4 linked regions of the Homo sapiens genome follow. The protein of the gene in region 1 interacts with the protein of each later gene in a pairwise test. Each region holds a gene or a part of one and is shown on either strand. Other genes may lie near its edges. The genes, in order: NOTCH2NLC, PGAP6, SLC5A5 and FAM221A.

What was found.
Region 2: the proteins of NOTCH2NLC (region 1) and PGAP6 interact in binary tests that used the Homo sapiens proteins (3 or more experiments, as listed by UniProt).
Region 3: the proteins of NOTCH2NLC (region 1) and SLC5A5 interact in binary tests that used the Homo sapiens proteins (3 or more experiments, as listed by UniProt).
Region 4: the proteins of NOTCH2NLC (region 1) and FAM221A interact in binary tests that used the Homo sapiens proteins (3 or more experiments, as listed by UniProt).

What each region holds. Positions count from the first base shown.
Region 1 is NC_000001.11:149,393,103-149,401,087, reverse strand, and holds part of NOTCH2NLC (notch homolog 2 N-terminal-like protein C), read right to left. Parts: intron 1-7,985. UniProt on the Homo sapiens protein: Human-specific protein that promotes neural progenitor proliferation and evolutionary expansion of the brain neocortex by regulating the Notch signaling pathway.
Region 2 is NC_000016.10:378,762-386,751, forward strand, and holds the start of PGAP6 (post-GPI attachment to proteins factor 6 precursor), read right to left. Parts: upstream 3,218-7,990; 5' UTR 3,061-3,217; coding exon 2,940-3,060; intron 1-2,939. UniProt on the Homo sapiens protein: Involved in the lipid remodeling steps of GPI-anchor maturation. Lipid remodeling steps consist in the generation of 2 saturated fatty chains at the sn-2 position of GPI-anchor proteins (GPI-AP).
Region 3 is NC_000019.10:17,888,643-17,896,357, reverse strand, and holds the end of SLC5A5 (sodium/iodide cotransporter), read right to left. Parts: intron 5,473-7,715; coding exon 5,357-5,472; intron 2,646-5,356; coding exon 2,481-2,645; 3' UTR 1,184-2,480; downstream 1-1,183. UniProt on the Homo sapiens protein: Sodium:iodide symporter that mediates the transport of iodide into the thyroid gland. Can also mediate the transport of chlorate, thiocynate, nitrate and selenocynate.
Region 4 is NC_000007.14:23,696,950-23,703,886, forward strand, and holds the end of FAM221A (protein FAM221A), read left to right. Parts: intron 1-1,242; coding exon 1,243-1,350; intron 1,351-3,836; coding exon 3,837-3,919; intron 3,920-5,146; coding exon 5,147-5,215; 3' UTR 5,216-5,701; downstream 5,702-6,937.

The sequences.
Region 1 (7,985 bases):
TGCACACAGCACTGCACTAGGGCAGTGAGAGGCTGGACGGAGGAATGGAAGAAACAGGTGGTGTCCATGGGTTGCCAAAACAACAGGTTGCTTCAGTCAGTTCTGTCCTACAACTAATCAATTTGGTGAGGAAAGGGGGAGAGAATCTTAGTCATCTTGTTCTCTGACCAAGCTAACTGACTAGACCCACTGTACTGGCATTTATCCATTAGGTCAAAGTGTCAGAATTAGCAGTGCATGGTAGACATAGCATTAGTCCTGCCTTTCAGGGATGTTAAATGCTTCAAAAATCTTGGCTATCTAGAAAAGGAGGACAGTAGCCGATTACGTCACCCACCCAAAATCATGTATTTGACTCCAGAACACACTGCTTTTCTCCAACATATTTTTTTATTAAGTATTAAAGTAAATGTCAATTTCCTAGACATATACAGCTGAAAGCATGCTGATTTACGATACAGTCAGATAAGAACTTTCAAGTAGCTACAGAAAATAGCAGTTAACAAATGAATTAACCAATATCATTAGAAACCAAAGGATTAAAAAAAATTAACCTATGAAATGAACAATTTTTATATCAACATTGGTAGCAATTTGATGTTATGTTATATACTGCTAATTATTTCCATACATATTGTGACATATTTAAGACAAAAGACTAACACCCTTAATATTTAAAGAGCTTTTTCAAACCAGTAAGAAAATAATTAAATGAGTAAAAGACACAATTTACCAAAAGAAGTAGAAAAAAAGGCAATACAAACGCCACTGATGATATGAAAAAACATTCAATATCACTGTAATGAGAGAGGCATATTAAGATTAAGTAATATTTACCACTTATCAAATGGTAAAGATTTTTAAAAATAAAACCTAGTGTTGACAATAGTATATTATGTGTGTGTGCATATATATATATGTAGATCTGTTCATAAACTAAAAAAAAAATATATATTATATATATATATATATATAAATAAATCAACAGCTTTTCTAAATCTAAGGGTAAAAAACCAAAGACGTATACCAAAAAATTAATGGCAGCATGATTGTGGACATTTTATTTACGCTTTTCTAGATTCTTCAAACATCCTTAACTACTTTTTCAAACATAATTACTTTTTATATTACAAAAATAAAAAAATCTTGTAAAGGTGCCAGAGAAAATCAGCAAAGTTTAAATATGAGTTAATTATCTGTAAACATAACGAATAATTCTGTTGCTACGTAAACCTACCTTAAACTGTTTCAATGTTTGTTTTTAGTTACAACTATTTTCCTTAACTCTCTTAGAAAGAATATGTCAGAGAAGCCACTACATATTACTTACTTTAAATAGTAACATAATGCCAAAGACTTGCATGAATCTCAGGATACGGTCTTTTACCTAAAATTCCTCATGAAGATTAGAATGCACTTTAAATGTTGTAATAAAGTAAATGCCCTTAATGTTTCTAACTAAAGAAGATCTAGCAAATAAATAAACCCATATTCACAGCAAATAAAAATATAATAAAATAATCGAAATACACATGTCCTCAAACTTCAATGTGTCTTGACAGCGTCTGAACCAAAGCATGTGTAAGGAGAGAATTAAACAAAAATGTCTTTGCTACTTACCACATTTACCATTTAGAGAAGTTAATATATCAGCACTATCTAGTTTTGTGATTATTCATACTTAGAAACTCAACAGAATAGATTAGTGAGTAAACAGTATTCAATTATTCTTATTTGAATGTTGGTTAGGTATACCAATAGAACAACCTCTCCCTGCTAGGTACCCGTTAAAATAGATTATTGAAAATATTTGAGGCTTAAAAACTTCCAGAATCTTCTCACAAAAAAAAAGATGAAAATAAAAAGAGATGAAAAAGAAGCAAACAACAATTTTAAAACATGCCTGCCTCAGAACAAGGCAGTTTATTTTAGAATGTAACCACAGCTTCTTGTACAACACCTTATTCATCAAGCACAACTGTATTTTAAAGGAATGCTATTTGTTAAAAAGACAACATATTTAGGATAAGGTATCTAACTCCAACCACAATATTATCATCATGTTTTCCTTACTTCACAAAATACACACATACATTCATCATATGAATAAACATATATAATAAGGGTGAGAGAGCTACTCTTAACCCAGAAACAGGTTCTGCAACACCCATAGATCCAACCTGTCGTTATGCAACAATGAGTCCATCTTGGCAAGATGTTTGGCTGATGTATTCAAATAACCCAGAGTTCTGCCAGCTGCCAGTATCCTGCAGAAGGAACTGACTCGGAGACCAGAAACTGCCCTAGGCAAGCCTCCAGGGAAAGGTGCTTCAGTCCAATGGAAAGAAAAACCCAGCCCCTCACTGCCTAGCCAGAGGACCCGGGGTACCATGGCTGGAGCGACGTAGCTGGCTGGAAATGCGAGAGGGGCAAGGGACACTAAGGTGAACCCCCAAGAGCTTGTTCAATCATACCTAATAAAGGCCAAACTATTGGGGAGCTAGTAGAACAGGGTTTTGCCAAGACAAGTACAAAAGGGTGAGGGAGATATTAGTATGATTAATCAATGCCACCTGAGGCAGCAACTCTGGGTGTGTCCACACCACACTTCAGTCACTGCCTGGCTGTGACGAGAAGTTCCTTCAGCCACTGCCACTGAGAACTGCATCTTCCAAGGAAGATATTTCCACCATAACTTGTCCTAGTTCAGGCTTGGCATTCGGGACTAAGAACACAGCACTCTCTCTTGCCGCAAACCCACTAACAGACATAATAGACACAACAACATGTGCCAAATTTATATTTACACCCTCACCAGACAAAGGGGTTTTTGTCTTTTCCCCAAGCCAAGTTCTAATACTTCTAAATTACAACAAAGAAAGAGGAAAATGGCAGACAGCTCACGACAGCAGACAAGCCCAGCAAGGGTGAGCTGGAGGTCGCCTTTCCCTGGTGGTATTAAGACCTGAAGTTTACTCCCAAGACCCTATAGATCCGAGTCACCCTGACTGCAGGAAACTGCTTTCAGAGAGCATAGATAAATGATAAAATAACTGTATTTCATATTCCTAATTGTGTGCTTATCTGTCTTGTCTCCATGATGATGTCAGCTCCTTGGGAGCAGGACCATATTTTCTACTTGGTCAATGATTCCCACACATCTAGAAGAGTAGAATACCCTGTACTTGCTACCACATGATGCCAAGGGAAGCACACAAATTAAGTGTGACAACACACCACAATGCTCCCCCAATACACCACTAAGACAGCAGAGCTACAAAGATAGCAAATGTTAGTGCCAAGGGCTAGTGATCCTACCAGTGAATTACATGGAAACCTATGTATTTACATACACAAATTAATACAATAATTCCTTTGCTTTTCTTATTCCAAGCTATGGCTTTATCATCCCCCTTTCTTGGCTTTACTCTCCTTTTTAAGACCACAATGTATGTTCTGCCATACAGATAATATTCTCCTCAAAAAAGAGAGACAGGAGAAAAAACAGATCTACGGCAAACCTCCTACCACTACCAGTGATGCAGTTTGTCCCGTCTCAAGCCTATGAGCATATCCTTTCAGATCTGAAGCCACTTCCTTCTTCCTATCAAGGACAGTATTATCAAGTGTCTTTGTGAGAGGAGCAATCCTGTGCCCCTTCTTGCAGATTGTTTTGTTCTGCTCAAGAAGCCCTAGATTCCTCCTTTATTTTCCTTTCCTTATTTCATTTGCTGCAGCAGCCCAGAAACCCCAAAAGCAGGACCACCAGAAATGAGTGACCTTTATATCTCTCCACACTAACACATCTGAGGGAAACTGCCGACACCAAATATGTGTTCATGAGCTAATGAAGCAGAAATCCTCAAAGGAAGCACCATTTGCAACGGCTGAGGACAGAATTCTTTAGTGGACACCAAAAAGGCTGTGGAACTCCTATGCATTCTAACATCTCAGGTAACATTCTAATGGAGGAATAAGGAGGCTTACAACAAAGTCATACAACACAAACAGAAGTCCGAAAATGCTGGATTTCGCAAATTTCTTTTAAGACAAAACAAACAACTTTACTAACCTTATACCATAGCAGCTTTCTTCTCTGTACTAAGTGAGGCCAGCAAGTAGGAGGCATTTCCAAGGGGGAAAAATGACCACAGGATCTAGCCAAAGCAACCTGTCTCTAATACTCTCAAAAAACAAACAAACAAAAACAAACACTTTGATTTCCCAGATTCACTCTGCAGTGATTCTAAAACTTTCCTAATGTAAGAATCACCTGGCTATTTCTTGAACACACAAATTCCCAGATGACATTCCAGATGCACTGAATCAGAATCTCCATGAGAACACCTGAGCTATTCTTATCATAAGAGAGGTTAGGGAAACACTGCTTGATAAATGTGATTCTCCCACCAGTGCCCACCTGTGCAGGGAGGTATGAAACAAGTAGGGCTAAGATGCTTTACCTGAGCAATCACCCCAGACATGCTCCTCACTGGGTTTGACTCCTTTTATGGAGAGCTGGGTGTCAGCCCAGTAAAGTCTACAGACAAGCATCTCTTTGGGTCCCTATCACCTGCACAGGTCTCAGGACTCTGAGACAAATTTCTGAGTAGATGTCAATGAGGACAAGTCATGAGGAGATGGATTACAGCTGAATATAAGAAGATCTTTCTAAGAATTAGAGCTGGCCAAAGATGGAATAAACTGCTGTGGAGAGCTGTCTACCACAAGAGATGTTCAAGAAGAGAGAAAATATGGTACCTCTTGACTAGAATGTTGTAAACATCAGATCCAGCATGGGATGGACAGAAAGACTAGATGAATTTTAAAGTTCCCGCCAATGCATAAGTCAACAAAGAGGAAAATTTCAGCCACTCCTTAATTAATTAAAAGAGATAGCAAAAAAAGTCTGTGGGTGGGGTCAGCTTTCAACTGATCCTATCTCTTCAAAGGAAAAAAGAACATAGAAACACACTCCAACTCACCATCAGCCTCTCCTATAGAATGTTCTAAAGGTGGGAAAGCAGGAGTCATAGATGCTGTGACTAAGACCTGCCGCTCAGTTGACTCTGAATTTCGGGCACATGCCAGACAAGTTCTGTAGTACAGAGAAGAAATGTGTGTAGCACAGACCTGGCCCTCAAGGATCAAAATCATGTGGCAGAGACAACTCAACACCATGTGATTCTCTCAAATATTTATTCATCATATTTCACCTTTAGTTTTTGTCAGCAGGGTGTTCAGGGGACTCTCTTGGTTCAAAAAAAAAAAAGCAAATATACTTTACTAAATGTACATATTCTCTCAATCCAGTACAAGTTTGCAATATCCAACTCAATGAAAAAAATCTCAAAAAAAATTATCAAAATAAATATAAACTTAGTTAACTCTAATTTTAAAAATAGTATTCCAAAAATGACTAGTCCCCAAAATGATGAAATTACAATAAGGTGTGGCTATTCTGGACAAAATAACAGAAATTGCTGGCCTAGTAATACAGTAATACAGGAAGCAGTGGAAGCAAACTTGAGTGAGAGGCAGGGGGTGGGTGGCAGTGCCTTTGAAGTGAGATTCCAAAGTCAAAGTGACCTTTATAAATTGCAGAAGTGATCAGAAAAAGAAAGAAAGAAACCCCACACACAAAGAAATTCAAAATTACAAGTTTAAATGAAACATCTGGGGAAGGGAAAAATTTGGTTTTTCCCCAAATGTAAGGTAAGCATGACTCCTGCAAATACTATTTTTAAAATGTCTAGGAGTACCACAGTTGTCCAAAATAAGAAAGTGGCTAAAAATAATTGTTCGACTGAACAAGTATTTATTGTGTGCCTATTAGATACCAAGGCATCATGCCAGGTACAGGGGTAGGGTATGGGCATTAGAATAAACACATAAATGAAAATACACGATTCCTTCCTCATGTACGCATTAACAATAAGCACTTGAGGATGTTATAAGAGTTTTTGTGCACATAAGCGCATTTGTACATGAGATGGAAGCAATGTGGACAGTGAATGAGGCACTGGACACCAGAAGAAAGGAATTCTAGTCTCAACTCTAATTGGCTCTGTGACCATGAACAATGAACATCAGAAAATGGAGGACCAAAACAGTGGCTCTCCTACAAGGTCACCAAACCAATTAATAACAGACCTGGAGAAGAATTCTGGTCTTCTGGCTCCTAGTTCAGTGATCTGTCCAAAATACTACACATATGGTAGGCTGACAAAGAAAGAAAAGAAGACCTTTTGGTTTCAAGTCATTTGCAGAGAAAGGGTGGGAAACAAAAACAGGAAAATCAGGAAAGGGTGGAAGGAAAATTAATAGTTCAAATTTAGGCATTCGAACTGAGACATCAAGAAAGGAAGCATGTAACTATGGACTGTGAACACAATATAAAGAAAATGATGTAAAATTTCTTATATCCTTATTCAAATCACGCCTTGCAGTTTTTTACTCTAAAATCATTGCAGACGTATATAGATAAAGGGTCAAAAAACAACATGTATGAATGACATTTAAGGAAAACGAGATAACAGAAGAAAAGGGAAAAGGAGAGGTGGAGAATTTATTATATCATCTAAATATATGAAGCCCTTCTAAAGGGTCAATGCAGACATACTGCACCCAGATAAACAGAAGAAATGACATTATATTCTATATCTCTTACGTCAGCAATTTTAAAATTCTTGAGTCAGAAGTGTTAAACACTGGAATGACTAAGGTTACATTTGTTATGGAAATTTCTTAAATTTAGAAAGACCTCATACACACACCTGAAGGTAAAAAAAAATGTACTTAATCAGTGGGTTGCAACCAAGTTACTTGTCAGAATCACCTGTAAACCTTGAAAAAATATGGATTCTCAAACTTACCTTATCAGAATCCCTGGGTGCTGAGTCCAAGATCCACCCCAACAGATTTTGATGTAGCCAGGACACAGAGTTTTTTTCTACCATAATGGGAGAGGTAGGGAGGAGGATCACTAGGAATGGCAACACAGAGTGGGAACTAGATCAATGCAAATTTTGTGGGCAAAATAGAATTTCTGTGGGTGTGATATTTTTAAAATGTATTGTAAGGCTGCTCTGAACCATCCAAGCATATCCCACTGAATTTAAACATTCTCTAAAGGTCCTGAAGTCAGCAACTACAATCCAGGTGAACCAAAAGTTGCTTCTCTATGTCATAGAAGCCTACAGGAGAGGCAGTAGGGTGGGAATGGAGCAGAGAGATCCCAAGAAGTTATGGGTAAATATTTTTTAAATCTAAACATTCAGAAAAATAAGAGAGACTAGGAATCACTCTCCTCCTCCTCTCCACCACACCAAAAAAAAAAGGAATAATAAGAAAGTGAAAGGAAAAATAGTTTTAGGTTAAATTTCATCACCATCTGAAAGAAAATTACTCCGATTTTGTTTAAGAGAAGAATTCAGCTGAGAAATTATCTAGCAGGCAGCAAAATCAGGGAGTCACTTCCCATTGCAAAGCAAAAGAAAACAAGGAGCAAGAGGATGGTCCTGGATAGCTGTTTAGACAATCAGACATACTGCTAACATCTCCTTGCCTTAGAAACTCCGTGATGTTTAAATTAACAATTGGCCACAAGCCAAACACAGGAGCACTCAAAAGTTTAGAAGGGTGTGCTGTAATTGGTACCTTAGCAAAACACAATAATAAATTAAGAGGATTCAAGAAGCCTTCACTGTAGACTCTAAGAAGATTTAAGATTTGTACCAAGAAACAGGCTTCTAAATCTCTTCTACTGCATTAGTTTAGCATCTAAAGAACACCTGTCTAAAAATCAAAATATCTAAATCCTATCCTTTGAGTCAACTTGACTAACACTCAACTTGACTACCTAAAAGCTAGCTAATAATCGCAGCACCTCAGCAGAGCAGAGGTGGAGGGCATAGTTTTATGCACTGAGATCCTATAATAAAAGAAGCCCTATGTGTCAGAGTAATCCCATTTCTGACATATTA
Region 2 (7,990 bases), on another chromosome or scaffold:
CAGAGGGAGATACTGCATGTGGGAGGGACCCAGGCCAGAAGCCTGGCCAGTCATGAGAACAAGGGGACAGCTGCCCTCTGCGTTCCAAGCGGGCAAGGCTCCTAACTGTCCTCAGGGAACGCACCCACGCCTGGTGCGGGGATGGAGAAGGGCCCGTGGGAGACATCCTGCTCATGGCCCCAGGCGAGGACTCAGGCTCTCACCCCCAGCCCCCCGTGCCAGCTCCAGCCTCGTGCCCTTGCGACCTTGGGCATCCTTCCCTCCCTGGGTCCCAGCCTTCTCCTGGGTAGGTCAGGGCGGAGGGCACATCCCTTTGGGGGCCCCTCCCTCCGAGGTTAATTAACGACAAAGGCTTCAGAAGGAAAAGCACAGTGGACACAGCAGGGGGCGGGACCCTCCCCTCTGCTGCAGCTCCCCCTCCCCACACACTCAGGAGCGCTGCCTAGGTCTCACTGGAGAGTGGCTGGCTCAGGCCCAGGCCCCTCCTGAGGAGGGAGACAGGTGAGCAGCAGGCTCTCCTGCCAGCCTCGTGACCCTCCCATAGAGGCACCAGAAGAAACGATACACCTGCCAATAGCAGCCTGTCGGCAAATCCAGGCCAAGCTCCAGGGGAACCTGGCGTGGCGACTGGGCAGGGGCTGGCCAGGCTCCACCCACGACGCACTCCAGGCTTTCCAGGTGTCTGCTGGCCACCAGGTCCCACCCACCAGGCTGTGGCCTGATAATGTGGGCAGAGAAAGCTCAAGTGCTGGGAGCTGAAGCAGGACAGCCCCCCAGGACCACGGTGTCCCGGAGAAAGCCGGCCTCTGCGGGGGCAGGCAGGGGAGGCCACCTGCAGCACACACAGCCCCTGGGCTGCTGGGGCAAAGCCCTCAGCCCCTCTGGCCCTGGAGCGCCAGCCTGAGGGCACCTAGAACCCAGCTGGTGGCTGTGAAGTTTCAGCAGGTACACAGAGATAAGAGATCTGTTCAAGGTTGTCCTAACACCCAGTCCCCGACTCCCAGGGCTCACAGCCCCTCCAGGCCTCTCCCAGGGCTCTGCAGCCCAAGCTCCCTGCCCAAGTTGCCCACACATACCAGGCTGTTAGGGGTGCTCTGAGCCGAGGTGACCACAGGGTGAGGAGGGCCAGCTACACAGCCCCCTGCCTGCCCCACAGCCCCTCCACGGACACAGGGCTGGGTGGGGAAGGTGGTAATGCAAGTCCCTGGCCCTGTCCTGGGAACCTGAGTGAAGACCCCAGACCCACGTCCTCCAAACCGGGACAGGCACCCATGGGAGACCCTGACCACCCACAACGCCACAGAGCACTTACTCCTCGGCAGGCTGGGAGGAGTGAGGGGCTGAGCCAGCACACCAGGCCTCTCCACTGTCCACACACAGGGGTTCCATCTCCCAGGAACCCCTCACCAGGCCTGAGTTCTGGGACAGGAGAATTTCCTTTGCCAGTTTCCAACGGAGTAAGGTTTTGGTATTTCTGAGGGTCTCACTCTGTCACCCAGGCTAGAGTGCAGTGCCATGAACACGGCTCACCGCAGCCTCAGCTTCCTATGTAACTGGAACCGCAGGCTTACATTACCACACCCAGGTTATTTTTTTTTCTTTCTGTCTTTCTTTTTTTTTTTTGAGATGGAGTCTCGCTCTGTTGTCCAGGCTGGAGTGCAATGGAGCGACTTCGGCTCACCGCAACCTCTGCCTCCCGGGTTCAAGCGATTCTCCTGCCTCAGCCTCCCGAGTGGCTGGGATTACAGGCATGCGCCACCACTGCCGGCTAATTTTGTATTCTTAGTAGAGAAGGGGGTTTCTCCATGTTGGTCAGGCTGGTCTCGAACTCCTGACCTCAGGTGATCCACCCGCCTCAGCCTCCCAAAGTGCGGGATTGCAGGCGTGAGCTTCGCGCCTGGCCATGGAGCAATTTAATCCGGGGCACGGTCCTCGGGGAAAACTGCCTTTCATCTCTACCTGTGCCAAGCTCAGAAAGCAGGAGGCACAGCCCCCGAAAGAAACAGGAGCTCAAAGGAGCATTATTTCAGGGGCAGGGGAGGGGAGGGGCTGGGGGCCGGGAAGTCGGGGAACAGCACCGCATCAGCTGCCGGGCACCTGGGCACCCGCGTGGCTGGGGACGTGTGGGAACTTCCAGCCGGCCAGAAAGGACACGGCCCCTCCAGAGTCCCAGGCCACAGAGGCCGGGGCAAGTCCTCACCATCTCAGGGTGGCCAAGGCCTGACGGTCTCCACACCCACGTCCCTACCCCGTGGAAGGGCTACGCCTTCTCCCTGGTCCAGCCGCCTCCTTGGACCTCAGTCAGGGACGGGGACCCTCAGGGAACAGAAATGCAAAGGGAGCCCGGCGAGTTTCCCAACAAGAGGGGAGAGGGGCGCCCTTTCCTCAGCCCCTCTTCCGCCAGCTGGGAGTCCCTCCTCCCAGAAGCCGGGCCGGCGGCAGGAAGCGGCCGTACCAGGGCTGGGGGTCACTGCGGAAGGGCTGGAGCCATGACGCCCACGGGCCCCCGCTACAGGGTCTAACAACTTTCTCCCGGCTCTGCCCCTCTCTCAGGCCGGACCCGGCCGGTGAGCTCACGGCCCAGCCACTCCTCCCAGCTGGAGTCCCGGGCAGAGTCCCCTGGGCCCCTCCACTTCCCCGCGCCGGGCGCGCCGGACCTGGGCGCTCTGGGAGGAGGAGGGAGGGGAGGGGGCGCTCCAGGGGCCGATGTGGCCCAACCCCGATCGGGGGACCGAGGAGGAAGCGCGGGGTCCCGTCCGCCTCGACCCCTAGGACACGAAGCGCCCCAAAGGGCCACTGTGCACCCCCAACCCGCGGCGGGGACCCCCAACCCCGCGCCGGCGCCAGATGAGCGCACAGGTGCGCCCGGGGTGTCACAATCCCGCCCCGCCCGCAGCCCCGGCCCCACGCCCCCGATGGCGCCCGCGCCTCCCGCTCACCGCTCTTCCCGCTGTAGCCGGCGGAGGCAGGCGGGGGCCGGGCAAGCAGCAGCAGCAGCAGCGGCCCCGCCACCACCGCGGCCACCGCCTCGCCCCCGGTCCCGGTGCCAGCCCGGCCCATGGCTCCGCGCTCGGCCCGGCGCTACCCGGCCCGCGTCCCGCGCCGCCGGCCCCCGCCGCCGCCCGGGCAGCCTCTGCCGCCTCCGCCTCTGCCGCCTCCGCCTCTGCCCCCGGCGCCCATGGCCCGGCCGGTCCCCGCCGCCGTCGCCCCGGGCACTTCCGCCCGCAGGCCCCGCCCCGCAGGCCGAGCCGGGAAGGCGAGGGCGGGGTCGGGGGGCGGGACCGGGGGGGGCGCGGACGCCGGGGGGAGGGGTCACGTGGGGCGCCGGTAGGGGGGAGGGGTCACGTGGGGCGCGCGGGGGACGGACCGGGGCGCGCGCGGTCCGGGGGGACGCTGGAGGGAGGGCGCGGGATGGAGGGATCGCGGGGGTCCCAGGACGGAGAGGTCGCGCCGGGCGCGCTCGGAACACGCAGGAAATTCTCCCCGAGGCGTGGGCTCCGCGGGGCTTCCCCGCCGGTTCGCTGAGTCCCAGCTCCGCTCGGCCGGGACCTCCGTGGCAGGCTCGGGGAGCCCGCGGGGGGCAGAGGCGCCGACCTCCGCCTGGGACCGAGAGGAACCCGCGCCCTGCCCTGCCCCGCCCGGCGCGCGTGGGCCTGAGTCAGGCGCCTCAGCACGGGGACCCCCGGGCCGGCCTTCACGCCGCAGAGCCGCTGCAGGTGCGTGTCAGATCCACGCTTTTATGCACAGACGAGAAGGCTGCTTGTGTTTAGGGACTGTAGTACCCGATCGGGGTGGCGGTTCACACGGGTGCGTGGCATCAACTCCCGGCGCTTTGCACCTGGATGGATTCCCACCATGTAAGATTTGAGCCGAAAAAAGGAAGCGATAAAGCCTAGAAAACTCGGGGAAGCTTTTTCCGTCTTAGGGCCAAGTCGGCTTTTCCAAGCGTGGCACAGAGTCCAGAAGTTCCGCCGCGTCGTGGGTGGGAGGGGGGTGGGGGCGTCTGCAAAGCCAAACTGCATAAGCGAAGTCCAAAAGACGAGCCCCCGACTGGGAGGTGGGGGACACAGCTTGCAGCTCACACCGCAGAGCTCACCTTAATAAGACTAGTAACAGTGCAGTAATAAACAGCTCTAAATCAATCACAGAAACGCTCCCCTAGAAAATACTGAAGGACAGCTGCCAGGGATACGCTGATCCTCCTCCCTCAGCGCAGAAATGCAAATTAAAAACTACTCCAGCTACTCCGGAGGCTGAGGCCAGAGAATCGCCTGAACCCGGGAAGCGGAGGTTGCAGTGAGCCGAGATCGCGCCACCGCACTCCAGCCTGGGCGACAGAGCGAGACTCCGTCTCAAAAAACAAAAACACAAAAACAAAAACAAAAACAAAAAACAAAACACTAAAGTGTCCTTCCCAGGATGTGAGGGTAAAAAGTTTAAAAAAAAAAAAAATTAAAGGAAAACCCCATTAAAGTGACTTCTTTTTCCTTTCACCTAACACATTGGCAAATAAAAACTGTACTAACAGGTGAGACTGTGGCCCACAGACACTGCTTGCAGCAGGCAGAGGATGTGGGAGCCTCGTGGGAACCCCCCCGACTTGTCCACTGAAGTAACAGCAGCAATGACCTTCCCTCGGGAATTCCACCTCTGCGTTTTTCCCTCCAGGTACGTTCACGGAAGTGGCACACTGCATGCGTCCAGTGAGTCAATGTGGCACCGCCTACATGCGTGTCACTGGCCGGTGGGACATTCAAATCATTCATACGGGGTCTAAACGAGACAGAGCGTGGCCGAGACAGGAAAGACAGGAAGCGCTGTGCTGCTTGGAAATGGTCCACCAGGTGCAGCAGTAGCTGCAAGAAAGGAACAGGAAGAACGGTGTGTTCAAAGCTCTACCATTTGTGTAGAAAAGGGAGAAAAACACGTTTCCTTTGTGTGTGTCAAAGGCATCGAATGTCTGGAATGATCCAGCACCGGCTACACTGGTTGACCTTGGAGGAGGAGAGGCGGGGTGGGGATGGGGATGGCCGCAGGGACCATACCTGTTTGTACCTTTTGAACGCCGCAGCGGGTGGTGAGGGTTTACGGAGCGGGGGAGGGGAAGCTGACTCCACGAGCCCAGACCCCTGAAGGCCAGAGCAGCGGAGGTGGAGGGTGTTGGCCGGGGAGGAAGGAAGCCCCGGCTGAGCCTTAAAGAGACCCTTTGTTTCCCGGGAATCCCAGCTGGGCCGTCCTCAGCCCCGACTGAGGGGAAAGGGGGGCTCCCAGGGGTTCTCATTTTAAAGGCACGGAGGTCAGATTGCAGATTTTGCTGAGCCGTGATTTGAGTGTGCTGTGCCGGACTGCACCCAGCAACCAAGGTCAGCACCAGCACCCAGGACTGCTCCAGACCCAGTCCCTGCTCCAGGCTGGGCCCAAGCCCCCCTCCTCCCACTGCCCTCCCCTGAGTGAGTCACCTTAGTCTGAGGTTCCTGTGCCCCAAGTCACCCACCGGAGAGGGAGAGAAGCGGCAGAGCCCCCACTTCCAGTGCTCCAGCTGAGGGCTGGTGAACTTGAAGGTGGGTAAGAATCCCCAGACGGAAGTCCAGAGACGTCTGCTAAGTCACAGAGTGTTGGCAATGGAGAGACTCTTCTGTAACAGGAAACACAGCTCAGTCAGGCTACTGGTCAGGGAAACAAAACAAGCCACTTTGTCAAAAAACAGCCACGCAGCCCTTGCCACAACAGATGCTCACACTTTGCTGGCAGGCATGTGAACCCCCTCAACCTTCTGAAAATTATTGTGCCAACATTAAAATGTAATGGAGAGGGCCGGGCGCGGTGTCTCACGCCTGTAATCCCAGTACTTTGGGAGGCTGAGGCCGGCGGATCACGAGGTCAGGAGATCGAGACCATCCTGGGCTAACATGGTGAAACCCCTTCTCTACTAAAAATATAAAAAGTTAGCCGGGCGTGGTGGCAGGTGCCTGTAGTCCCAGCTACTCCAGAGGCTGAGGCAGGAGAATGGCGTGAACCCAGGAGGTGGAGGTTGCAGTGAGCCAAGATTGCGCCACTGCACTCCAGCCTGGGCGACAGAGCGAGACTCCATCTCAAAAAAAAAAAAAAAGTAACGGAGAGGCCGTACGCGGTGGCTAATGCCTATAATCCCAGCACTTTGGGAGGCTAAGGTGGGCGGGTCACCTGAGGTCAGGAGTTTAAGATCAGCCTGGCCAACATGGCGAATTATTTTTGTCTCTACTAAAAATATAAAAATTAGCCAGGCATGGTGACATGAGCCTGTAATCCCAGCTACTCAGGAGGCTGAGGCAGGAGAATCACTTGAACCCGGGAGGTGGAGCTTGCAGTGAGCAGGGATCAGGCCACTGCACTCCAGCCTGGGCAACCAGAGCAAGTCTCCATCTCAAAAAAAAAAAAAATGTAATGGAGAACACTAAGGCCTAGAGACAGACACACAAGGATGTTTGCAGCAGAACTGCTTGTATTTGGAAAAACCTGGGCGCTCCATGAGGGCAATGGGTAAATAAATCATGCTATAATATACTCTGATTTTTTTTTTTTTTTTTTTTTTGAGACGGAGCCTCACTGTCGCCCAGGCTGGAGTGCAGTGATGCGATCTCGGCTCACGCAAGCTCCACCTCCCGGGTTCACGCCATTCTCCTGCCTCAGCCTCCCGAGTTGCTGGGACTACAGGCGCCCGCTACCATTCCTGGCTAATTTTTTTTGTTTTTAGTAGAGATGGGATTTCACCCTGTTAGCCAGGATGGTCTCGATCTCCTGACCTCATGATCCGCCCGCCTCGGCCTCCCAAAATGCTGGGATTACAGGCATGAGCCACAGCGCCCGGCCTACTCTGATTTTTTTTTTTTTTTTTTTTTTTTGAGATGGAATCTCGCTCTGTCGCCCAGGCTGGAGTGCAGTGGCGCGATCCTGGCTCACTGCAAGCTCCGCCTCCCAGGTTCACGCCATTCTCCTGCCTCAGCCTCCCGAGTAGCTGGGACTACAGGCGCCTGCCAACACACCCGGCTAATTTTTTGTATTTTTAGTAGAGACGGGGTTTCACCATGTTAGCCAGGATGGTCTCGATTTCCTGACCTCGTGATCTGCCCATCTCAGCCTCTCAAAGTGCTGGGATTACAGGCGTGAGCCACCGCGCCCGGCCTACTCTGAATATTTATGCAACTTTTAGATGGGTCTATAAATGTGTCTTCAGAAGGAATGTCAGTAAAGTGAAAAATCCAGTTGCTGGATAACAGGGACGCATCGTATTTCCAAACAAACAGGAAGACCCTCAAGCCCCCTCCCCAGGTCCCCCTCTAGTGAGCCTGGGTGAGGGTAGACTCCAGCTGCCTGCAGCCTGGCCGGAGGGGAGGGTTGCTGGGTGTGGGAGCAGCTTTCCACAGTCGGTGTGCTCTTCGCCCAGCAGCAATAAGCATTATTATAGTTGTCTTGGATAAAAATATCAAAAGTTAAATAAAAGCAAAAAAAAAAAGCCGTAATCCAATTTTCTCCAAATAACCACCCTGTGCACCTCCTGCAAATGCTTCCTGTGTGCAAGACTGTGTGAGGACCCCTCTCTCTCTGTGGACACTCTCCCAGGCTCTGCAGGTTGAAAGGAGTTTCCCTCTGTCTGTTCATGGCCACCTGGTAGACATGGGAGACCCTGTCTTCCCACTCCGCCCCGAGTTTCCTGAGGGCAGGAGATGGGTCTCTCTCACTCTGTGGTCAGGCAGGAGGAGTGCAGACCGTAACCCTGTCTTTCTGACCCAGTGCCCTAACCTGTCAGCATGAACCACACCACAGGTGCCCAGACATCAGAGTTTCACAGACAGAAATAGTTTCCCCAGAGTTTTGGGGCTTTTTTAGGCTCAACTATCATGCATTATTATTCTTTCATAAAAAAAGGGTCATTTTCCCAGCCTGGGCAACATGGTGAAACCCAGTCTCTACAAAAAAAAAAAAACCAAAAAAAAAAAAAAAAAAAATTGGC
Region 3 (7,715 bases), on another chromosome or scaffold:
GAATTACAGGCGTGAGACACTGTGCCCAGCCTCCATACAAAGACTCGTACATGAATGTTCATAGCAACTTTATTTCTCATAGCCAAAAGTGGCAAACAACCCATACATCAACTGGTGTATAGATAACAAACTATGGTCCTTTTGCACAATGGAATACTACTCCGCAGTAAACGGAATGAATAACGCCGTGGAAGGATCTCTATACTGCAGCCAGATAAGCTTCTTCTGCTCACTTGGGGGAACATTAGCCCATCCCTACCCCGGGCACCTCCTCCCATCTCAGATTTGGGCTCTGTTTTGAGTGAGGACTACACAGAGGTGGAAAATCTGCTTACCACGTTGCTCAGTCATTGATTTGATTTTATATATATATATACACACACACACACACACACACACACATATACATATATATATATTTTTTTGAGACATAGTCTTGCTCTGTCACTCAGGCTGGAATGCAGTGGCGTGATCTCACTGCAACCTCTGCCTCCCAGGTTCAAGCGATTCTCCTGCCTCAGCCTCCCGAGTACCTGGGACTACAGGCGCCCGCCACCACACCCGGCTAATTTTTGTATTTTTAGTAGAGATGGGGTTTCACCATGTTGGCCAGTCTGGTCTTGAACTCTTGACCTCGAGTGATCTGCCCGCCTCAGCCTCCCGAAGTGCTGGGATTACAGGCATGAGACGCCACACCCGTCCAGTCATCGATTTTAAAGTTGTAATGGCCAGTTTTAAGTCCAAATCTAAAGGTGTCCAATCCCAACAGCGGGCACAGAGGACCAGGTCTCCAAGGGGTGGAGAGAAGCGGGATCAGAAGGTGTGTATGAGGCCGGGCGCAGTGGCTCACGCCTATAATCCCAGCACTTTGGGAAGCTGAGGCAGGCAGATCACTTGAGGTCAGGAGTTCGAGATCAGCCTGACCGACATGGTGAAACCCCGTCTCTACTAAAAATACAAAAGTCAGCCGGGAATGGTGGCACATGCCTGTAATCCCAGCTCCTCCAGAGGCTGAGGAAGGAGAATCTGGGAGGCAGAGGTTTCAGTGAGCCAAGATCGCACCACTGCACTCCAGTCTGGGCGACAGAGCGAGACTCTGCCTTAAAAAAAAAAAAAAAAAAAAAAAAAAAAAAAAAGGTGTATGAGCTCCTGTGGCTGCTGTCACAAACCACTATAGGCCTGGTGGCATCAAACAACAGAAATTTATTCTCTGACAGTTCTAGCAGCCAGAAGTCTGACATCAAGGTGTCAGTAGGGCCATGTTCCCTCTAAAGGCTCTAAGAAATAATGCATCTCATGCCCCCCTCCTGATTTCTGGTTGTTGCTGGCAATCCTTGGGTTCTCCGACTCGTAGATGCATTGATCCAACCACTGCCTCTGTCTTCACGTGGCATCTTCCCCATGTGTTTCTCTGCATCTCTTCTCTACTTCATATGAGGAACCAGTCACTGGATTCATCCATCCTCCTCCAGTAATACCTCTTTTAATTTAACCAGTTACACCTGCAAAGACCCTATTTCCAAGTAAGCTCATGTTCTGAGGTTCTGGGTAGACATAAATTTTGGGGGGACACAACCCAATTCGAGAGCCTCCATTGTCAGGTGAGGAGGGGACGCTAGCATGCTCAGGATGATGGGAGCCATGGCAGGTGTGTGGGCCAAGGTTGGAGGCCATGTGGGGTCTGAATCATCCCCTCCCCAATCCCAGGAAGAAAATAAGAAAGAGGTGGGGCGCGGTGGCTCACCCCTGTAATCCCAGCCCTTTGGGAGGCCAAGGCAGGAGGATCACCTGAGATCAGGAGTTTGAGACCAGCCTGGCCAACATGGCAAAACCCCGTCTCTACAAAAATACAAAATTACAAAAATTACCTGGGCGTGGTGGCTTTCTATTATAGATTGAGAAAAACGGTAGGCTGGGCATGGTAGCTTACGCCTGTAACCCAGCACTTTGGGAGGCCGAGGCAGGTGGATCACTTGAGGTCAGGAGTTCGAGACCAGCCTGACCAACATGGTGAAACCCTGTCTCTACTAAAAATACAAAAAGTTGGCTGGGCATGGTGGTGGGCACCTACAATCCCAGCTACTCAAGAGGCTGAGGCAGGAGAATCACTTGAGCCTGGGAGGCAGAGGTTGCAGTGAGCCGAGATCACACCACTGCACTCCAGCCTGGGTGACAGAGCATGACCCTGTCTCAAAAAAAAAAAAAAAAAAAAAAGAGAGAGAGAAAAACCCAGCCTTATTTGGGGGGAGCCGTCAGGGCTGCAGCGTCTAATACTGGGGACGGTTGAAGCAAGGGGCTGGATTTAAAAAATGACCTCCCGGAGGCAGGGCCTCCCCATAGGGTAGGGTATTGTAGTCCTGAACTCATTTGCATACAAGGCAATCCAGCCAATCAGAGCCCAAGGCCATGGGCCCGTTGTCTGGGTTTGGCCCATCCTGAGGTTCCATCCCAGGGTGTCAGTCCCGCGGCTGGCCCTGTCCTCAGAGGTTTGTCTCCTGCTGGTCTCGACCACCATCATGTCCAACACAGGGGGTCCAAGAGCCAGCCCCCTCCAGCTCCTTCTGCCCCAAGAAAAACAGACGATCCTCATTGGTGGGCAGGAAGCCAGGGGGCTTCTTGTTTCCAGTGGGGAGTTCTTCAGGACCCTGGGGAAAAGTGGGAAAAAGAGACCCCATCAGAGACCCTGTCCCCACCCTGTTCCGTGTCAGCTCATCTCCCAGATGGGCTACTGATGACCTGGCGGGACGGGGCGTGCACAGAATTGCATACTATCCCCTTGCTCAGTGCACGGGCCAGTCCTGCCCGCTCTGCCTCCAAAATTTCCATGCGCTTCTCTTCCCCACTCACATGTCACCTACAGCCCAGGCCATCAACGCTTTCTCAGATGCCTGCTATAGTTCCTCCCTCCTTTCTCTGCTTCTCTGCCTGTTCACCTTCAAGAAAATAAATATTTCTGGCCGGGCACGGTGGCTCACCCCTGTAATCCTAGCACTTTGGGAGGCCAAGGTGGGCAGATCACTTGAGCCCAGGAGTTTAAGACCAGCCTGGCCAATATGGCAAAACCCCATCTCTACCAAAAATAAAAAAATTAACCAGACTCGGTGGTGCATGCCTATAATCCCAGCTACTCAGGAGGTTGAAAGATGGGAGAATTTCTCGGACCATGGAGGTTGGGGCTGCAGTGAGCCATGGTCATGCCACTACACTCCAGCCTGGGCAATAGAGTGAGTCCCTATCTCAAAAAAAGGAAAAAAAAAAAAGACAAAAAAGAAAAAAAACACACAAATAAAACAAAGACAACAAAAAAGAAAAATAAAATAATAAAGAACAAAAAAAGAGAGAGAAAGAAAAAAAAGAAAAGAAGAGAAAGGAAAAGAAAAGAGGAAAGAAAGAAAAGATAAACACTTCTCTAGGGCAGCTGGAGGGAGCTTTAAACACCTTCAGGCAAACCCCTCCCCTCCCAATCCCCTTCTCAGTCAAAGCTGTTCCTGTCTGTGGCTGGTTCCTCTTCTCCTAACTCAGGGTCAATCAATGTCACCTCTCCCAAGAGGCCACCCCTGACTTCCCTGGCTAAAGTTGCTCCCCATCACAGCATCCGGTTTTATTATCCTTTGAATATTTATCATGCTGAGACCCTACACGTTTTTCTTTTTAGCTTGCTCTCTCTCTCTCTCTCTCTCTCTCTCTCTCTCTCTCTCTCTCTCTGTCTTTTCTTTCTTTCTGACAGTGTCTGGCTGTTGTTGCCCAGGCTGGAGTGCAATGGCACAATCTCTGCTCTCTGCAACCTCCACCTCCTGAGTTCAATCGATTCTCCTGCCTCAGCCTTCCGAATAGCTGGAATTATAGGCATGCACCACCACACCCGGCTAATTTTTTGTATTTTTAGTAGAGATGGGGTTTCACCATGTTGGCCAGGGTGGTCTCGAACTCCTGACCTCAGGTGATGCACCTGCCTAAGTCTCCCAAAGTGCTGGGATTACAGGGGTGAGCCATCACGCCTGGCTCTTTCCTTTCCTTCCTTCTTTTCCCTCCCTCCCTCCCTTCCTGCTTTCCTATCTTTTTGACGAAGTCTTGCTCTGTCACCCAGGCTGGAATGCAGTGGCGCGATCTCAGCTCACTACAACCTCTACCTCCCGGGTTCAATTGTTCAATTCTTCTGCCTCATTCCACTGAGTAGCTGGGATTACAGGCACACGCCACCATGCCCGGCTAATTTTTGTATTTTTAGTAGAGACAGGGTTTTGCCATGTTCGACAGGCTGGTCTTGAACTCCTGGCCTCAAGCGATCCACCTCAACCTCCCAAAGTGCTGGGATTACAGGCGTGAGCTACCGTGCCCGGCCTGACAGCATCTGGTTGTATTATCTTTTGAATGCTTATCACATACTGAGACAGACCCTACATGTTTCTCTTTTTAGTTTTCACCTGCCCCTGCTAGATGAGGGTGGGGTGGGGGTCTTAGACCATAGCCCAGAGCAGGACTGGGTACACAGCAGGTGCTCAATAAATGAGAGAATGGAACAGGGATTCCAAAACAGGGGTAGGCATGGGATCAGGTCCCCCAGGGACAGCATTTTCCAAACTCTGGGAATTCACAAAGCAACCACGCGGTTTTAGCCAAAATCGGTTTACCATCTGTTGTGTTTCTTATGTAAGATTTTTTCCCCAAGTTGACTCACTTTTGAATTAAGTAATTTTATTTTAAGAAGAGACTTTACATCAATACCCTAACAGCACACCAGTTTCACCTGCCAAAGATTGGAAGTCACTGTAAAAACAGATAACGACAAAAAGGAATAGTATTCAACTTTGTTCAGTCCTTATGAAGGGAGATAACAAAAACTTGAAGATGAGGCTGGGCTCGGTGGCTCATGCCTGTCATCCCAGCACTTTGGGGGTCTAAGGTGGGTGGATCATTTGAGGTCAGGAGTTCGAGACCAGCCTGGGCAACATGGTGAAACCCCATCTCTACTAAAAACATAAAAATTAGCTGGGTGCGGTGGCATGCGCCTGTAGTAGCAACTACTCAGGAGGCTGAGGCAGGAGAATCGCTTGAACTCGGGATGTGGAGGTTGCAGTGAGCCGAGATTGCACCACTGCACTCCAGCCTGGGCAACAGAGCGAGACTCTGTCTCAAAAAACAAACAAACAAAAAGGAATAGTATTAAACTCTGTTCAGTCCTTGTGAAGGGAGATAAAAACTGTTGAGGATGAATCAGCTCCCAATAGAGTCTTTTGACTGGAGATAATGAGCGATGGAGAAAGGTGCTGATATACCATGTCCCTCCCCTGAGCTGTGGTCACGTCCTAAAGTCACTTGGCTGCCTCTAGATCTGGGAACCCAGCCTAAGACTGACCTTGACCAAGTTGTCATCCAGGATGGCCACTTCTTCCTTGGGGGCCACTGATGCTGTCTGCCGTGCGAGGTCCCACCACAACAATCCCGGGGCCAGGGTGCTGCGCTTGGTGGGGCCTGAGAGGCGGGGAGAAATGGAGAAATCCAGGCATTCAGTGAAGGGGTCATGGGGGTTGGAGACCAGGTCCTGGGAAGGAGAAAGGAGATCCCTGGTCTATGAAGTCTAACAGGCTCCAGTCCCACTAAGGGACCCTGGCAAGCCTCTGAGCCTCAGTTTCCTCATCTACACAGTGAAGTTGTAATAAAACATCAGTGAGGCCAGGTATGGTGGCTCATAATTGCACTTTGGGAGTCTAAGGCAATAGGATTGCTTAGAGTTGCCCAGTAGTTGGAGACCAGCCTAGGCAACATAGCAAGAACCCATCTCTACAAAATATTAAAAAATTAGCCAGGCATGGTGGTGTGTGCCTCTAGTCTCAGCTACTTGGGAGGCTGAGGCAGGAGGATTGCTTGAGCCCAAGAGGTCGAGGCTGCAGTGAGCCGTCATTGTGCCACTGCACTCCAGCTTGGTGACAGAGTGAGACCCTGTTTCTAAAACAAAACAAAACAAAACAAAACAAAAACATCATTGGAGGTTGGGCACGGTGGCTCACGCCTGTAGTCCCAGCACTTTGGAAGACCAAGGCAGGGGATCACTTGACGTCAGGAGTTCGAGACTAGTCTGGCCAACATGGCGAAACCCCATTTCTACTAAAAATACAAAAATTAGCCAGGCGTGGGGGTGGGCGCTTGTAATCCCAGCTACTCGGGAGGCTGAGGTAAGAGAATTGCTTGAACCCGGGAGTCAGAGGTTGCAGTGAGCCAACATCGCACCATTGCACTCCAGCCTGGGCGACCAGAGTGAAACTCCATCTCAAAAAAACAAAACAAAACAAAACAAAGACATTAATGGATGGCTGGGAGGGTCCAGCACACGGTTCCATTCACTGCTGCATCCCCAGTGCCTAAAATAGCGTCCAGCACAGAGGAGGACTCGATAAAGGCCTGATGACTGTGAAGTCTGAGACTCAAGAAGTGTGAGCAGGTACTGTTATCACTACTGACTTTCCCCTCTTTGTCTCCTTCTACTTTTCCGTGGAATTTAGAATTCCCTAACAAGTGCGGAGTCACCGGCAGCTTTAGAAGATATTTCAGCACCAGGGATAGCGCCGCCCGCCCCAACCCATATCCTCTACTGAGGACTTAATCTTGTTGGGGAGAGGAGTTGCAGGCAATGCCTCCGTTTCTGCCTCTGCAAAATAGGGCAAGCTCTGAGAGGTGCAGGGTTGTCAAGAAAGCAACATAGCTTTAAAGGGTGTAAATGTGAGCCGGGCACGTTGGCGCGCACCTGTAGTCTCAGCTACTCGGGAGGATGAGGTGGGAGGATTGCTTTCAGCTCAGGAGTTCAAGGTTGCAGTGAGCCATGATTGTGCCACTGCACTCCAGTCTGGGTAACAGTGAGACCTGTCTCTTTTCTTTCTCTCTCTCTTTCTCTCCTTCTCTCTCTCTCTCTTTCTCTTTCCTTCCTTCCTTCCTTCCTTCCTTCCTTCTTTCTTTCTTTCTTTTAGATGGAGTCTCACTCTCTTGCCCAGGCTGGAGTGCAGTGACGCAATCTTGGCTCACTGCAACCTCCATCTCCCAGGATCAAGCGATTCCCTTACCTCAGCCTCCCAAGTAGCTGGCATTACAGGCGCCTGCCACCATGCCCAGCTAATTTTTTTGTATTTTTAGTAGAGACGGGGTTTCACCATGTTGGCCGGGCTGGTCTTGAACTCCTGACCTCAGGTGATCCACCCGCCTCGGCCTCCCAAAGTGCTGGGATAACAGGCATGAGCCACTACGCCCAGTCGACCCCGTCCCTTTAAAAGAAACTATATATATATACACTTTCTTTTATGTATATATATAGTCATAATTTTTATATATATTCATAATTTCTTTTATGTATATATACACATAAAAGTGTGTATGTATGTGTATATATACACACACACTTCTTTTTTCCTCACAAACTTTTTTTTTCCTTTTAAAAAAATAGGTACAGCCCAGGTGCAGTGGCTCACACCTATAATCCCAGAACTTTGCGAGGCCGAGGTGGGCGGATCACTTGAGCCCAGGAGTTCGAGACACATGGCGAAACTCCGTCTCTACTAAAAATGCAAAATTAGCCAAGCATGGCGGCACACACTTGTAATCCCAGCTACTCGGGAGGCTGTGACATGAGAATCGCTTGAATCTGGGAGGTGGAGGTTGCAATGAACTGAGATCACACCACTGCACTCCAGCCTGGGTGACAGAGTGAGACTCTATCTCAAAAATGA
Region 4 (6,937 bases), on another chromosome or scaffold:
CAGTCATGCATCTATCATAGCAGGGGGCAGAGCTGGAGGTGGGTTCCCTAAGCTCGGGGACTCAATAGAGGAAGTGACAGGTATTGAGGGAGTCTGTACTTATAGTCGGAGCAAGCATGAGGCTACCAGGCCCTATCAAGCTGAGAGACCAACTTATTAAATACAAGTTGAGCATTTGAGATCAGTAGCACATGCAGCCGCCAGAGGGCAGCACAAGGACGTGCGTGGGCCAGAGCCCCTTCTCCCATGTTCCCACATGCCCCATGGAAGCCACTGGGGCCAGGAGCGGGGAGAGACTGAGCAATCGTCCCACACTGTTTATGTTATAAGATGGGGCTAACTTCTAACCCAATTAGGACCACCTGTGGTGTAGAGATAGCAGTGTAGGGGAAAGGTGGTGGTTTGTGAAGAAGATAGAGCAGCTACACATTTTCTCTGCAGCTTCCTTCCTTTTGGTCCAAAAGTCAATATATTTAGCAATTAGTCTTTGTAGTTTATGGTTTGGAGTTGTGGATGTTTCCTCATTTCATTGAAGAGGGTGCTTTCTTCTTTATTTTTCATACTTTGTTTTTAGATGGTTTCCTAGTAAGGAATAGAGTAAAAATACACTTATTCTACCCTTTTCAGCCAGAGGTTCCTTATTGTGAATGTCTTGCTTTTGATAGTGTTTTATAACTATTATATATTAGGGTTTTGAACTTCTATGCTAACATAGGTACATAATATTCTTTTTTTCTGTGAAAAAGTTCTCAGAAATGTGCAGAAGAATACTTTTACCCATTTGCTTTTACTTTATATGTCAGACAAAAATCTAAATAAAAAGAGTCTCACAGTGTTGCCCAGGCCGGATCCAGTGAAGTGATGTGATCATAGCTCACTGCAGCCTCAAATTCCTGGGCTCAAATGATCTTCCTGCTTTACCCTTCCAAGTAGGTAGGGCTACAGGCACACACCACCATGTCCAACTAATTTATGTATTTTTTTTTTTTTGGTAGAGATGGGGTCTCCCTATGTTACCAAGACTGGTCTTGAACTCCTGGCCTCAAGTAATCCTCTTGCTTTGGCTTTCCAAAGTGTTGGCATTACAGGCATGAGCCATTACACCCAGTCTAAAATTTTTTTTTTATAGAAAGAATTTCTAATAATTCTGCTGAGGTTCCAATTTATTTTACATTAGAAGTAATAACTTGTTTGTATCCCTGTAAATATTTAATTTTTATTCTCCATGTATTGTTTTCTCAGGTGTACCTTCAGTTGAATTTTTAGAATCTCCCATTACGGCAGTAGACAGCCCATTCCTAAAAGCATTTCAAGCATCATCTAGTTCTTCTCCAGAAACGTTAACAGATGGTAATGAAATGAAGTTTAGAACTGTTTTTGGATGTAGTAAATTGGAATATGGAGCTTTGATTTGTTTTCTAGGCATCTCTCTTTTTTTCATTATTACGATAATTTAACTTCAAGTTAAGCTATCATTTTACTTTCTTTTATGTAAGCCACACACTGAGAAAAAGCAAGCAACTTCATTTTGTATTGGGAAAAATAGCTAACTCCGAGAATGTCGAGGATTCTGATACTACTATAATTTGAAGTTTTAAACCTTGTTCTGGTACATGCTGTTGCTCTGGTGTTTGAATAAGAGGGCCTTCTGGCGGCCTAATTGCCTTTGGGTTTTCCCAAAGAGGCGTAATCCAGTGATAACCATAGGTTAGCAGGGTTTTATCATTTATAAATTAAGAGCAAGTAGAATTCATTTTTAAGCACCAGTATTCTGTATTTTCCTTACTGAAAACAGGAAGAATGAATTTGTATGACTTATTAGGTATTTAAAATTTAGTATTTTAGAATATTTTAAAATGAGAATTTTCTTTATCTGTATTTTCATACACCTAGACGTTCCCCACAAGGAATTTTAAGGCTGCTTGCCTTAAAACATACAACTTAGTACATAATGATAAAATATATATACAAGTAAGAAGCCAAGAAAAGGACACAGCTGTGGCAGCTTTCAAGGTTGATGTAATTGCTTTGTTTAAACTTCAGTTTTGACTGAGTTTAGTGGCAGCCAAGACACAGAGGAAAGTGCAGTCAATTAAATGCTTTCTTTATTAGACAGGAGGAAGCCCGAGTTCCTCAGTGCTAATGAATGTTACACCAATGCTGGAATTTTTTTTTTTTTTTTTTTTGAGACAAGTTCTCTCTCTGTTGTCCAAGCTGGTGTGCAGTGGTGTGATCATGGCTCACTGTTACCTTGAACTCCAGGGCTCAAGTGATCTTCCTGCCTCAGCCTTCCACATAGCTAGGAGTACAGGTGTGCCCCCACACCTGGGTAATTAAAAAAACTTTTTTTTTGCAGCAGCAGGGTCTTGCTATGTTGACTAGGCTGGTCTCAAACTCCTGGCCTCAAGCTAGCCTCCTGCCTCAGCTTCCCAAAGCACTAGGATTATAGCTATGTGTCACTGCTCCTGGCCTGGCATGCTGGATTTTAAGTCAGTATAGTGACCCTCAGTGATTAGTGACCAAGGTAAAAGCTTTTTTTCAGCAAATACAGCAGACAGTTGCTTGTTTCTGATAGTCACCTTTTCCTTTTTTTTTTTTTTTTTTTTTTTTTGAGACAGAGTCTTGATCTGTTACCCAGGCTGGAGTATAGTGGTGTGATCTTGGCTTACTGCAACCTCCACCTACCTGGCTCAAGTGATCTCCCACCTCAGCCACCTGAGTAGCTGGGACTATAGGGATGCACCACCATGTCCAGCTAAATTTTGAATTTTTTGTAGAGACAGGGTTTTGCCATGTTGCCCAGGCTGGTCTCGAACTCTTGAGTTCAAGCAATCCACCTGCCTCCACCTCCCAAAGTGCTGGGACTACAGGCGTGAATCAGTGCACCTGGCCTGATAGTCACCTTTGAAGAGTTGTGATATACCATTTTACTAGATAAATGGTAATATGCCATTATAATGCAACTCAATGTAGATGAGTCTGGAAGAGGCTGGGCTCAAATGGTCCCACATGATCCAGGGATAGACCCAGAGTTTCCAGAGGAATGGGTGGATAACACTTATTCAAATAAGAATCCCTTCTTACTCTTCTCAATAAAACTTTTGTCAAAGATAATCGACAGACTGTAGCTATACTCTGTGGTGATTGTCTGGAGTTACATGTTGCTGATTGAGGGTGAATTCATATGCTTTAGAAACTAGAAGCGCAAGTGTTCAGGTTGCTAGTCTGCTTTGGAAATGAAGGGACCCAGTGAAGACCTTCACTCGCAATGAAGGTGTACTTTTCTATGCAATTAGGCTCTTGGCTACCTGCCAAGAAAACCAGATGTTTTCCTACTGAAGCAATTTCAAAAGTTCCTTTCAGCATATAAATTAGTGCTTGATCCATTTGACAAAGTGATTACCGTAAAAAATGGATAAAATAGTTCAGTTTTGAAAGATTTTGAAGCAGGTACTATCATTACTTATGGTTGCCTATACCAAGCCTCAATAATTACTTTTGTGCATTATCTCAAAGTGTAACATGGATTTCTAGTTATAAAATGTAAAAAGTAGTTGGACAAAACTAAGTGTACTCTTATACGGAATAGCTATATGGTGCTATTTAATATGAACTGTGGAATATTTGGAGAATGTTTGCTAGTGAAAAACACTTTTGTCCTGTGATGCCATTCTCTCTAAAAGAGAATGAGGTAGTAGGACCAATTATTCATTTAGGCCATTTTTGGTTTGAAAAATAAAACATTATCACCGAGCAGGAGAAAACTTTTCTTTCTTTTATTTCAGGGGAATATGTAATGATATAAATACATTACTTAGATTTTTTTTCCTTGTTAGTAGGTACAAGTAGTCAAGTTTCTTCATTAAGGAGACCTGAAGAGGATGATATGGCTTTCTTTGAAAGACGATACCAGGAAAGGGTAGGTTTTTGAGGAAATTCAGTTGCACTAAGCATTTACTTGTAGCAAAAGCACTAGAATGATTATACATTGAATGTGGAACATCCTTGAAAATAATTTATAAAGTCTTTACTTACAGTTGGTGTTAGGCCTTGAGGCTTATTAGAATACACAGAAACAGGGCTAAAGAATAACATGATATTTAATACACTGGTTGATTTATGAAGGCCATAAAGATTGGATAAATACGCAGATAAAATTGTCAGTAATAAACATCAATATCAGCAGATTTGTAAATTATATGTATCTTGAATTCTTTTTTTATACATGTACCTTTATTTTTTATTTAAAAATATTTGCCAAATAAAGATTGAATATATTTTGAATTCTCTTTTTTTTTTTTTTTTTTTGAGACGGAGTCTTGGTCTGTCGCCCAGGCTGGAGTGCAGTGGCGCGATCTCGGCTCACTGCAAGCTCCGCCTCCCGGGTTCACGCCATTCTCCTGCTTCAGCCTCCCGAGTAGCTGGGACCACAGGCGCCCACCACCATGCCCAGCTAATTTTTTGTATTTTTAGTAGAGACGGGGTTTCACTGTGTTAGCCAGGATGGTCTGGATCTCCTGACCTCGTGATCCACCCGCCTCGGCCTCGCAAAGTGCTGGGATTACAGGCATGAGCCACCGCGCCTGGTGCCTATTTTGAATTCTTAATATGTATTATTTATTCTTCTTAGAGGCTTTTAGGTGTATCCAGACTCGTTAAAATTACCCAATACACATCTGGGCACAGTGGCTGCTTTTTTGCTTTAACTACAATGGAGGAGGAAAAGACTTTCAGAAAGGTAACTGTGGGAATATAGAAACCAGAATTATAGAAAACTATCCTTAAAGCAGTCCACGTTCCAGAGAGAATCCAGCTGGATTAGGTGCATTATGTAACTCTGTAGGGAATGTGCATAGGCTGGATGTAAGTTTAGTCATTTTAAGCACTTGTAATTTTAGTGGCAATTGAAATTGTTTTCTCTAAAGCAATATTCATATATTACTTTTATTAAAATGCTTCTGTAAAATTAAAATAAAACCATCTGAAAATGTGTAATTATGTCCCTTTAACAGATTTTGGCTTTAGTATTTAGCAGCTTAATAACTGTGGAATGGCTGTGACATGAATCTGAATGAGTTTTCTGCAAGTTTTTTTTCTTTAGAATGGTTTACAAGTTATTATATCAATAAATATGTTAAATTTACAGATGAAAATGGAAAAGGCTGCTAAGTGGAAAGGAAAAGCTCCATTGCCATCAGCTACAAAACCTTCATGAAGACTATTGGAGAAATTAAAACCATCATCCAAGTATCTTTTTCATGTTTATTTAAATGTAATAATACAGTTTATTTTTCCTGAAATTATTTACTTTTTTTTTTTACTGTATAAATGTCTTTTGGGATGTTTCCTTAATTTATTTAAATAACTAAAAATGCCTATTACTTTTGTCAAAACTCATAATTTACTACTTTGTATGTACCTTTCTTTCTCCTGACAAATGAGGTTATTTTATATGAGTCTGTCTGAGAGTACAGTAAATGTTTTTAGTACATAATAATTTAACTGTTTCAGGTATTTAAAAAATTAAAGATATTATCAAGGGTTTTGGACAAACATATGAGCCATTTTTTTGTCATTCAAAATAGTAAGTTAAAAACAAGAGAACAAAAGAAAAAAATAGTTAAAATCATTAATTTTTTTATTTTTCAAACTTTGTAATGTTATGTTTTCAAATAAAAACTATCTCAAAATTTTACAACCATTTTCTAGTGATATTACTGATTTTTTTTTTCAATCTTTCTCAGGCTGAAGATATCTACTGATTTTTACGTTGTGTTGTCAACCACCCATTGTCTATGACTGTACTGGACACATCTTGTGTGCCACTGCAAATCCTCTTGGCCCCGTTTCTTACTCCATTACTGCTGTGGAACACTTTCCAGCAGGCTTCTGATAGCGGAAGCCATTTGATGGCACCTTGTCTTGGGCGCATGTCATGGCTCTCTTGCTTCCTTCTGCAGGGATCTTCTGACACTGTGGCTTGGGATGCCCACTAGAACCCCACTGTATGATACATATGCAGCCCAAAGATGTTGGGGAGCTAGTGACTTTGGGGCCACTCTTGATTAATGGGAGGTGGAAGCCCAATACATAAGTGCTCTCCCGTCTGTTGGGAAGACAATTCTGAAATGCATTTCATAAACTTCCTCAGAAAGTCCTATCGTTGAGCTCCAGTCACCCATAGCAGTGGCCAACTCAATAATAATATATCCTTATCTTTCTTTTTTCCTTTTCCACTCCTCTACCCCTCCCTCTAGTTCCCTCAGATCACTTCCCAAATAAACTACTTGTATAACAACACTTACAGGTATAAGAACATTTGTCTTAGGCTTTGCTTTTGGGCAAGGGATAAACTCAGGCTAAGATGGTTAGTACCAGGAATGGCCTTTGACAGCAAAGACTCAGGATAGTATCCTGTGACTGGATCAGTTACTGCAGTGGATTTGGATGAAGTGCAGGTGGCAGGTGAAGTGCTAGGTTATGCAGTCGCTGTGCCACTACAGTGAAATGGGACTAGTGGAAATTATAAAGATTAAGTATTCACTTGCTACTGTGAAATGCTTTAGGAGCTTTGAAAAAGAAAATGACACAGGCTCATGATAGCCATTTAACTCAAGGAATGCTGTGAAAGCCAGAGTCCCTCTGTAGCACTTTCAGGAAACTCATCTGCAGATGCAGGGCAGACTGTGCTGCCAATGAGGCCCAAATCTAATAGTAAAGGTGGCAGGGCTGCAGAGGAGACAGAATGCACAGCCTTGCTAGTCCCCAGCAAAGTCAGTGCTGACACAAAAACAGTGGAACCCTAAATCACAGGATGGGACATTTGTGTTGGTGAGCCTGAGAATCTTGAATCCTCAGGTTTCCATGAACTCTGAGCTGGCACAAGCCGTGTCCTCCAATTTTCTAGTGGAGAATAGCCTGCCCTTACCTTGAGATT